2 separate regions of the Homo sapiens genome follow, and region 1 is linked to region 2. Evidence: fine-mapped expression QTL. Tissue or cell type: blood mononuclear cells. Region 2 holds a variant in brackets; the other region holds the start of a gene. All regions are shown on one strand. Distances are from middle to middle.

What was found. PIP is the estimated chance that this variant, and not a neighbour inherited with it, causes the effect.
Region 1: ZFHX3 starts here. The variant in region 2 is fine-mapped to the expression of ZFHX3 in blood mononuclear cells (TOPMed, PIP 0.95).

Annotation. Positions count from the first base shown.
Region 1 is chr16:73,045,001-73,050,225 of GRCh38, forward strand. It overlaps ZFHX3 (zinc finger homeobox 3), which reads right to left and starts at 3,128. Exons shown (of 10, transcript NM_006885.4): 1 at 2,752-3,128. LOC124903719 (a long non-coding RNA gene) reads left to right here and starts at 2,578. Exons shown (of 2, transcript XR_007065116.1): 1 at 2,578-2,800; 2 at 5,126-5,225. RefSeq lists enhancers at 1-58, 2,422-2,957, 3,494-4,029 and a silencer at 2,719-3,568.
Region 2 is chr16:73,121,774-73,126,998 of GRCh38, forward strand. It overlaps a transcript of ZFHX3 not described here. Among named protein-coding and RNA genes, the nearest start is that of HCCAT5, 32 kb to the left of the region's middle. RefSeq lists enhancers at 1,252-1,461, 2,329-2,828. The variant T/G (reference allele first, on the strand shown) is at 3,150.

The DNA of each region.
Region 1 (5,225 bases), 77 kb before region 2:
TTGCTTAGTCACTTAAATATTTACTTTTTAAGATGACACTGTTACAACTCTGCAATAAAAATAATTTCTTAAGTAAGGGTCTGCTCTGAGCCCTGAAGCATTTCCAGATTCTTACTGATACTTTGTAGGTGGAAGAAAAAAAGCTCCTACCCCTGAAAGATACACCAAAAAGGAACAACTGCACACAGTGACAATAAGGACATGTTTCCTGGATGCTAGAACTAAGCCACATCACCACTAGCCCTAGAAATACTTTTCCAGCAGTCTGTAATCACAGATTTATTCTAATGAACTAACCACTTTTGGGTCACCAAAGATGAGCCAGGCCGGTCCTGGGAGTGTCTAGCAAGCATCATTTAAAGTCATAATGATGAAAACTAAATCTCGCTTATTTTAGCTCCTTGCCACTGGGCTGTCCAATTGGCACTGAGTTGACACAGCAGTTAAATTCAACCTCAAAGCAGCAAGAAGGCAGGCACTTCACTGTCCTGGTGGGAAGAGCCAGGCAGGGGCCTGTGGAGGGCACCGTTTTAGATGGGCCTTTCCAACCCTCCCTTAACATTCATTTGTGCAAACAAAAAATGGAAGAAAAGGAACCAAAATTAAGTTTCAGGTGGTTGGGGAAGCAGCATGGATTTACATTATTATTATTATTATTATTATTATTATTATTATTATTATTATTGAATAGTTAGCAAGTGTTTCTCAATAGTTCCCTGTTCATCAACACTGTTTTCAGGAGAAATGGAAAACAGTAGCTCTATTTCATAGAAAGTACAGCCATTTCAAAAAAAAAAAAAAAAGTGGGGGGGGGTTGTTGAGAGAGGGAAGTGACCCATGTCATAAAGACAGAAGGTCTCCAAGTCACTTAATTCCTTGTGATTCTGAAAGGGCTGTTTTTAAAGTCTAAAAGTGCTCGCTTCTGCATCTGCTCCATGTTGTTAAATAACACTTGTGTAATTAAATAAAAGAGCCAACTGTGACCCCAGCCCACTCTGAGAGGCACTTTACATGCTTTCTGAAAACTATGCTGGAAACACCATGAGGAGAACTCCTTAGTCCTGTAATTTAGCAAAGGGAGAGAGAAAAAGTTTCTTTTGGCCATCATAGCTACACACTCTCTGAAAGGGTGCCTGCAGGGTCTCTGCAAAACAGAATGAACACAAATACAGGCGTGCAAACATCCAGGTATGTACCTCTCTGTGAAGACCCCATTCTTGAAACCCTTCAATTATTTGGAACCGTGGTCTCCTGACTTCCCTCACACCTCACTTTTGCCTTCATTGTTTTTCATGTTTGAGTAGCAAGAGGGATTCAGAATCTCAGGCTGCCAGTGGCTGTTCTGATAACAAGGAGCAGACTCATGTTTCTTGCTACGGCCTTTCTTGATCAGGTTACCTTGGAAGGTGTATGTTTTCCTACCCAATGCAGTCCCCACCACAGCACTCTCGTGTCCTCCTCCAGCCCAGCCTCCTGGAACTCGTGATTTTCAGGGTTTCCCTTGAAACCTATCCAGAAACCACAGCCATTAACTGAACGTGAAGATTTGACACCTCCTGAATTCAGGAATGAGGGAACTCGAGGGGCCAACTCTACAAACTCGCACCTGCTGCTTGACGGCAAGGAAACAGAGTTTCCCCAGCTAGGGTGAGCTTTAAATTATACACTATTTATTTAGTGACTTGTCTCCAAGGATCTCAAAGCATAGAGAGAAATAAGATGATGTGTAACTTTCTCACAATCTACCTTCAAGGCTTTGCCCTGGTGCATTCTGACAAGCAGGACCCAGTATGAAGGAGAGGCCTTCCTTCTGTGCCCAGGCAGAGCCATCTGTTCTCTCTGGGGTTTTCTGTCAGTGGCTTTAGGGAGTCTTCAAGGACTGTTAAATGACACAGAGGGTGGGGGGAGGGATGACCCTCCTGGATTCACCTGCTCACGGCTTTCACTTAAGCCAGTTTAACACAGGAGGTACCACTGTGCCACGCAATTCCCTCTTAGCACACACCATGCGTGAGCTGCAGTCTTTGCCCTCCAGGCCTTTTCCTATCATAACACAGGTGTGTCCAAGGCAGAAAAGAACATTTTCCAGAAGGTTCGTTTCCCTCCAAGCCTACAATGCTTCTTTTTGTTGTTATTGTTTTTCTGCTACTGACCTAAACATAGGCATTCCTCCTCCTAACAGGATAAAAATCTTGACTCTCTCCTTTGCATCAGCTCCCCACCCCGCCCCTGCCCAAGGAAATAAATGCTCTGACTTTTCCAAGAGTGCGAAAAAACTAAAATTAGAGGGTGGACAAGATGATCTCCAAAGGTGCCCTCCAGCTCCAAAACTCTGATTCTCCCTTTAATTACTCCACAAGCGCATTCTTCACATTGTTTCGAACTGACCAGCGACTTCTCCAGGGCTGAAAAGGGTGCATTTTTAGGCGGAGGCACCCAAACTTCTAAATGACACCAGTACCACAAGTATTCAGAAGGCAGGAACTAATCCAAAAGCAGACTCAGGAAAGGAGGAGGGAGGGGAGGACAGAGGGAAGGGAAGGAAGGAGGAAGGAAGAGCTTTACTGTGTGCCCAGCAGAATTTAGGCGCTCTCACCCTAGGTAGGTGGCAACTGGAGTCTGGGAGTTCAAGTGCATCCAGCCTGCCCTTCCCCCACACGCCCCAAGAGAATGGGAAGTTCAGCCAAGACTCGCAGCACCTGCCCGCGGCTCCAGGCCGGCTGCGCGGACCCGGAGGGAGGCTGCACTCACCTGGCACACCAAGCCTCCGCGCACCTCCGGAGGGAGGCGGCACTTGCAGGTCCGGGGGCCGCGCCGCCATGCGCAACAACGGGAAATTCCAGTGGCACCCGAGCCCCGAGCTCACCCACCCCAGGCGGCATGCTCCCCACCTCCCGCTGGCCCCAGGACTCGGAGGTGGCTCTGGTCAGGAGCAGGGGGCCCGGAGACAGGGGAGGGGAGCTCATGGTGGCGGCAGGGCTGGCGGTCGGCCCGTCCCCGGAGGGAGGTCCCCGGGACGCGGCGGGGATTCACCCACGGGGCGCGGCGCTGGCGTCCGGGTCCCCGGCCTGCCCGCCGCCGCCGCCTCCTCCTCTGCCGCCGCCCGCCCGGAATCGCTTTATGTAAATGAAGCCCAACTCGCAGTTTGCAGCGCGCACCGCCCGGGGAAGGGGGGCGGGCGGGGCGGGGGGCCTTCGGGGATCCACATTACACAGCAACAAAGCGGAAGGTTAATTTGAAACTCACAGCCCCGCTGCCGCTCGGCTCCCCGGGCAAAGCCTGACATCTACAGTCGTGCCGGGCGCAGGCCGGGTTGCTCGGCGGCGACCGCGCCCGCCCGCCCGCAGGGACCCGGGGACGCACAGGGACGCGCGGGACCCGGGCGCTCAGCTGCGCTCGCTCCGCTTGGGGCGCGGGCCTTGGGGCAGGCCGGGGGTCCCGCGCACCCGCCTGGGGCCAGGAACCCTCGCCGCTCGGCCTGCGCCGCCCCGGGAACCGGCCCCGGCGGGAACAAAGCCCAGGCCCTCCCGGAGGCGCTGACCCCTCGCTCATCAAAGGTCAGGGGCCGGCCTAGAATCGGGCGAGAAGAAAGGGACGCGCCCTCGGCCACTAAAAGGAGCCTGAGGCCTCCGAACCGGAGCCATCGCTCCCTGGGCCCCGTCCACGTCACAGCCAGGCCACTCAAGCATGGGGACAGGAGCCAATGTGGACAGGAATTTATTGGAAACACACACCCATCCTATTAACTGCTTTACAGAGCACTTCTGTTTTTCAGTTGCAGAAACTTATAAAAACATCCCCCTGCTCTCCGTTGAGAGTTTAAGGATAGTTTTTGAGGCCAGAGAAAGAGAAAAGGAGAGATCACTAGAAAGATAGGAAGAAAAGAAGTGGGAAGAAAAGGAGATGCAGTCTACCATGTAAGCCTCCAGGCTCCTTAGCCTCACCTTATAAAGCCACATCACCGCAGAGATAGCAAAGATCGTGCCCTTTCCCAGGGAGTTCCTACCGCCAGGGTAAGATTTAAAGCGGCCACCCCAGTTGGTCAAAGTGATTGCTGGGCGCCTTTCTATCTCCCCAAGTTCACCTTTTCCAGTTGGTCAAAGCGATTGCTGGGCGCCTTCTATCTCCCCAAGTCCACCTTTTTCCATTCTCATCTGAAAGCCAGCCCCAAAGAAATCTCACCGGAAGTCCTCTGTCCTCCCTGTCAGAATCCCACCCTCAGTCTGAATTTACTCCCGATTCTCACAGCACAGAAAGGCACCTGCTTTTACCCTTTCTGAAAACCACCCACCCAGGCTGGCCTTACAGCCTGGAGAGTCTTTTCCTCGGGCACAATAATGAACCATGCAAGTGTTAGAAATATAATCAGCTCATGAGGCGAAGAGCAGTATGTATGGAATTGTATTAGCATGAGGCACACACTGACTCGGGAGAAAAAGGGATGCTTAGCTGGTGAAAACCATCACATCCCCGTATAGAAGGCTTTTTGCACAATGTAAGTTGGGTTCAGATTAATGTAAGTATCTAACCTGTTGGGTACAGACAGCCCCTTTCTACATTTTAGTCCAGAATAGATTCTGGGGAAATTTATTTATTTATTTATTTATTTCAGCTAAGGCCCTGGGAGAAAAGACTGCCTCCAGGGAATCATGTCCGATTAGGGACAAAGGAGGGCACAAGCCCAATTCAGTCACACGTGAGAGCACGGGGGCCGGGTGGGGGGAGTTAAGAGCCAACAGGGAAGGTGGAGGATGAGTTTGCAAACCAGACTATGGTCACTGCAGAGCTGCTTCCAGACCACCTGACTTCAGGCCCAAGAACAGGTGGTGTTTTCAAAACACACTGTTATTTATATTGGCCATATAAGTTGAGAACACCTTAAAGAAAACAATTAATAATTTAATTGAAAAAGTGACTATGAATAAGACATGAAGATGACGTATGCTAGCAGGACCGCAAGCAACGTGGCCCACAACGCAGAGATGCCTCTGGCAATCTCTCCGGAAAAACGAAGATTCCTTACCTGGGATAGGTAAGGCCTGCTGGATAAATTAAAGACAACAAGAAAATGTTGATACTCTCAGAAAATCTAATTTTGCTGCTTTATCTTCATTTTTATTAACAGGGGACAACCTCGTAATCTGGTGACATCATGATCCTGGTAGGCCCACAGACAAATACCTTCAATAAAATAAAAGCTAGAAAGCCCAAAGAACAAGCTATTA
Region 2 (5,225 bases):
CCCGGCTAATTTTTTGTATTTTTAGTAGAGACGGGGTTTCACCATGTTAGTCCGGATGGTCTGTATCTCCTGACCTCGTGATCCACCTGCCTCGGCCTCCGAAAGTGTTGGGATTACAGGCATGAGCCACCGCACCCAGCCATAATTGTGGTTTTCACCATTACTTTTGAAGGTGAAAACTGCAATTACTTTTGCTCCAACCTATTCATATTAATTATATTCTCTTCATGAATATTATTATTCATGAATATTAATTCATATTGTCTTCGTGTGTCTCTCTCCCCACTAAGACTATAAGTTTCTCAGGGGCAGGAACCATATTTTATATTTCCAGGGCCTGGCACATGGTAGGTACCCTATCCATACTTGTGAAATTAATTAATGGATAGCCACATCAAATTCACAAGTATCTTTAAATATAATTTCACATACAACTGCTCTTTTTTTTTTAAGATGGAGTCTCACTCTGTAGCCCAGGCTGGAGTGCAGTGACGCAATCTCGGCTCACTGCAACCTCCACTTCCCGGGTTCAAGCGATTCTCATGCTTCAGCCTCCTGAATAGCTGGAACTACAGGTGCATGCCAGGCTAATTTTTGTATTTTTTTTTTTTTTAGTAGAGACAGGGTTTCATCATGTTGGCCAGGCTGGTCTCGAAACCCGGACCTCAAGTGGTCTGCCTGCCTTGGCCTCTCAAAATGCTGGGATTACAGGTGTGAGCCACTGTGCCTGGCCACATATAACTAATTTTAGGATTTGTTTTCTGTCTTGCGGCTTCCTGGAGGTCAAGTCTTTTGGCTGTGTCTCTAGGCCACCACGGGGTGCAGTGACCAACTTGGGGGGCCATCAGGGGATTCCCTGTAGACAAACTGTCCAGCCCTTCCTAGCATCCTGTTCCTAGTGGGGCACCAGATGGGCACAGAGCAGGAGTCAGCAGTTAAGGGTGAGCCCCAGAAGGAGCAGAGGAAAGAAAACACGAAGTGAGGAGAGCAGGAAGCAAGACTTCTCCTTCGGCTTTCCGTGGCCCTGGGAGCTGAGCACTGCTGCCAAGCAAACAGTGGTGTGGAGGAGCGAGAAGGAGAGCCCAGGCTGGATGTGGTCGGCCGCTGGGTGGAGTTAAAATGTATAACAAGGGAGAGGCAACTGAAGAAAAGAAAAGATTCTTTTAAAAATTCTGCTCTAGCCTAATTAAAAAAAATTCCACTCCCTCATGCTACGTTTTAAGAGACTGCCCTTTCAGAATTATTTTCAGTCTGGTGGTAACAGGCAGGAAGAGTGTCAGATGTTCACCAAGCTATAAAGAGGACACTCCCCACCCTCTAAAACACAGGGCCAGCCCCCACATTGCTTTTCTGACTTGGGTTATGAGGATACAGGATGTGAAGTTGTCAAAGGCATAGATCTTTCCGGAAAGGAGTGTCCCATGTGGTAGATTAAAAAAAAAAAAAATGGCTACAGTATTTTGCAGCTCCTCCCACCAAGACGTGGAGTCAGTTTCACCAGCCCTTGAATCTGGGTTATACTACTCACGGGACATCAGGACACCTAATGCAAGCAGAAGCTTGACAAGCACTTGCACAGAGGGGTTTGCTCTCTTTTGCTATTTTTGGAATCCAGCCATCATGTGAAGAAGTCTAGACTGGCTTACTAGATCCTGGAGACACATAGCCTGGTCACCCTTGTGGATCCCTCCCAGGTTCCAGGCACATAAGTGATACCATCTGGGACCACCAGGCCTCAGACAGTCCTCACCTGACTGTAGCCACATACACAAGTTCAGGTGAACTCAACAGAAGAACTTCCAAGCTAAGCCCAACCCAAACTGCCAGCCTCCAGGATGGTGAGCTAATTAACAATTGTTGTTTTAAGTCTCTAAGTTTTGGATATTTTAAAAATATGGTGCTATGGTCTCAATGTTTGAGTCACCTGGAAATTAATATGTTGAAACCTAATCCCCAATTTAGGGGCATTAAGAGGTAGAGTCTTTGGGAAGTGATTAGGTTATGAGGGTAGAGCCCTCCTGAATGGGACTCATGCCCTTATAGAAGAGGCCTGGGGGAGCTTGTTTGCCCCTTCTGCAATATGAAGACCCAGTAAGAAGATGCCATTTATGAGGAATGGGACTTCATGAGATACCAAATTTGCCAGTACATTGATCTTGGACTTCTCAGGCTCTAAAACTGTGAGAAATACATTTCTATTGTTTATAAGTTACCCAGTCTGTGGTGTTTTGTTATAGCAGTACAGATGGACTAAGACAGATGGCAAAACCAACCAACCAACCAACTAATACAGTTTGAGTCACAGGTGGGAAAATCCATGTAGAAATAACCACTTTACAACCTTGTATAGGAGAGCTATTATAATAGTGTGTTTTGGCCTGTTCCGGCTGCCGTAACAAAATACCATAAACTGGGTAGCTTTTAAGCAGCAGAAATATATTTGTCCCAGTTCTGGAGGCTGGGAAGTTCAAGATCAAGGCACTGGGGACGGCAGATCTGCTGTCCGGTGAGGGCCTGCGTTCTGGTTCATAGATGATGTCTCCTTGCTGTGCCTTCATGTGGTGGAAGGAGCAAGCTAGCTCTCTGGGTCTCTTTTATAAGATCACTAATTCCATTCATTCATGAGAGCTCCACCCCTATGACCTAATCACTTCCCAAAGTCCCCACCTCCTGATATCATCACATTGAGGATTAGGTTTCAACATTCAGACCATACCCTAGAGCGATTCAGAGTGCGGGCTTTGGAGCCAGGCAGGTTCAGTCCCACCACTTAGATATAATCCTGGACACGTTTGATAGCAACGGTAACAGTGACAGTACATGCTTTGCAGGGTTGTAATGAGAACTGTGTCGGCCAGGGTCACACATCTGTATTAGGATAACTTGAGGAGAGTTTATAAAGGGACTATTACATCTACAAAGATGTGGTCAGGGTTCAGGGAAACACAAGAGAGAGTGTAGCGCACTGGGGTTGTGATAGCACCCAGGTGGGAAGCAAGGACAGGGCATGGTGACGAGAAGCTGGGGACAGAGCAGGTGGGGTCAAGAGGGTTGCTTAACAGGACCCATAACCTTGTGTTGAGAAATGAGTCTGTTCTGCAGTGACATGGCTGGGAGGGGGCTGGGAGAATACAAACTCTGATCTAACT[T/G]CTTCCTCTTGCCTATTTTTGCCAGTGATCCTCATTGGCCAAACCCAACTGGAAGCCACTGGGCTTCAAATCAGCCTCCTGTGGCAAAAAGCAAGGTGGAGAAGGTGAGAGAGTAGATCTGGGGCAAATGGAAGGTATCCAGCCCATGGATTTAAAAGCAATAATGCATAGGAAAGCCCTGATCATGTACCTAGCACCCAGTCACTGTTTGCTGTAATATTATTATATTATCGGAAGAAACCAAGAGCTGTGGGTGGCAGAAGAGGAATTGAGCTGTTTTTTTTTTTTTTTTTTTGCTAGGGTGACCTGCAGAATACTCATGGAGGAGGTCTGCTTTGAGTTGTGGCTTGGAGAGATGAAGAAAATAATAGAGCAAACATTGACATGGAACCTACTATGTGCAGGTACCATTCTGGATGTCGTACATACATTAATTTATTTAATCTTCATAGCCACTTTATGGGGTAGGTACTGTGATGGTTAATACTGAATGTCAATTTGATTGGATTGAAGGATATAAAATATTGATCCTGGGTGTGTCTGTGAGGGTGTTGCAGAAGGAGATTCACATTTGAGTCAATGGGCTGGGAAAGGCAGACCCACCCTTAACCTGGGTGGGCACCATCTAATCAGCTGCCAGTGCAGCTAGAATATAAGCAGGCAGAAAAATGTGAAGAGAGAGACTCCCTAGCCTCCCAGCGTACATCTTTCTCCTGTACTGGATGCTTCCTGCCTTCGAACACTGGACTCCAAATTCTTCAGTTTTGGAACTTGGACTGGCTCTCCTTGCTCCTCAGCCTGTAGATGGCCTATTGTGGGAAGCTGTGATCGTGTGAGTTAATACTTAATAAACTCCCATATATATATATGTGTGTATATATGTATATATATATGCATATATATACACACACACACATATCTATTCCATTAGTTCTGTCCCTCTAGAGAACCCTAATACCGTACCATTATTATCCCACTTCACAGATGAGAAATTGAGGCAAAGAGAAGTTAGATAACTCAGTCAAGGTCATACAGTAATAAGAAATGGAGCCAGGATTTGAACCAATTTCAAAGAGGGTGTGGGACACAGCATTTGTTTCTTAGGCACATAGCTGAAAAATGCACAGAGAGGAAGCAGTGAGTCATCCACAGGGACTAGTATGGGGTTTGTGCTAGAGAATGGGGAAAGACAGAGAATGGGGAGAGAGCCAAGGACCAGAATGATGGGTGGAGGAATTTGTCCTCCATTCTGGGAGGCTCTGGGAAGCCACTGAGGACTTCAGAGAAGAGAAAGGCAATCACAGCGGGGCACCAGGAAATTTATCCGTGTGCAAGGCCAAACTAACAAAGCAGGGAGCAACTGGAAGCCAGGCAATCAGCGAGAGGATACTGCAGAGGTCCAAGCACTAGGTGATGAGGGCTTGAATGAGGATGATAGCAGCCTAGATGGAGGGAAGAGACAAGGGCATTGCGCTGCTAGGGGAAGCACAACAGGACTTGGGGACTGAAGTACTGGATGTGTCAAGCGGGGACTGAAGAAACAGAAACAGATGGGAGGTTTGGGAGCCACGTGATAGGTGAATGATAGTATTAGATGTATCATTCAGCCACACTTAGGGTACACGTTGGAAAAAAAGTGTACGTCAGCCAGTCTTGTGTGTTCTTTGGTTGCAGTGCACATGTTAATAAGTTGTACCACTCCCACACACTGCAGTCAGTTGCGAAATAGCAATCTATTTTGCAATATCAGCTCCTGGTAAATTTCACTTGTGAGCCTGGAACAAGGATGGGGGTGGATTCAAGGACCGCCCCCTGAGGTGGTGAGAAGACCAGGGATTGCAGGACATTGTGAGATTCTTTCTGGGGCAGCTGGAAGGATGCTTGGTTGCCCAGCGACAATCCTGCCTCCGCAGCAGTCTTGGTTTCCTGCAGTCCCGGATGCATCTCATTAAAAGGACAGAGGGATGGATGGCCGACACATTTTCTGAAGTGGCATTTTCAACGTCCTGAGTCCTGGTATCTTGTTTATAAGTGGCACTTACAAAATACAAGGGAAAGAAAAAGAAAACGGGAGAG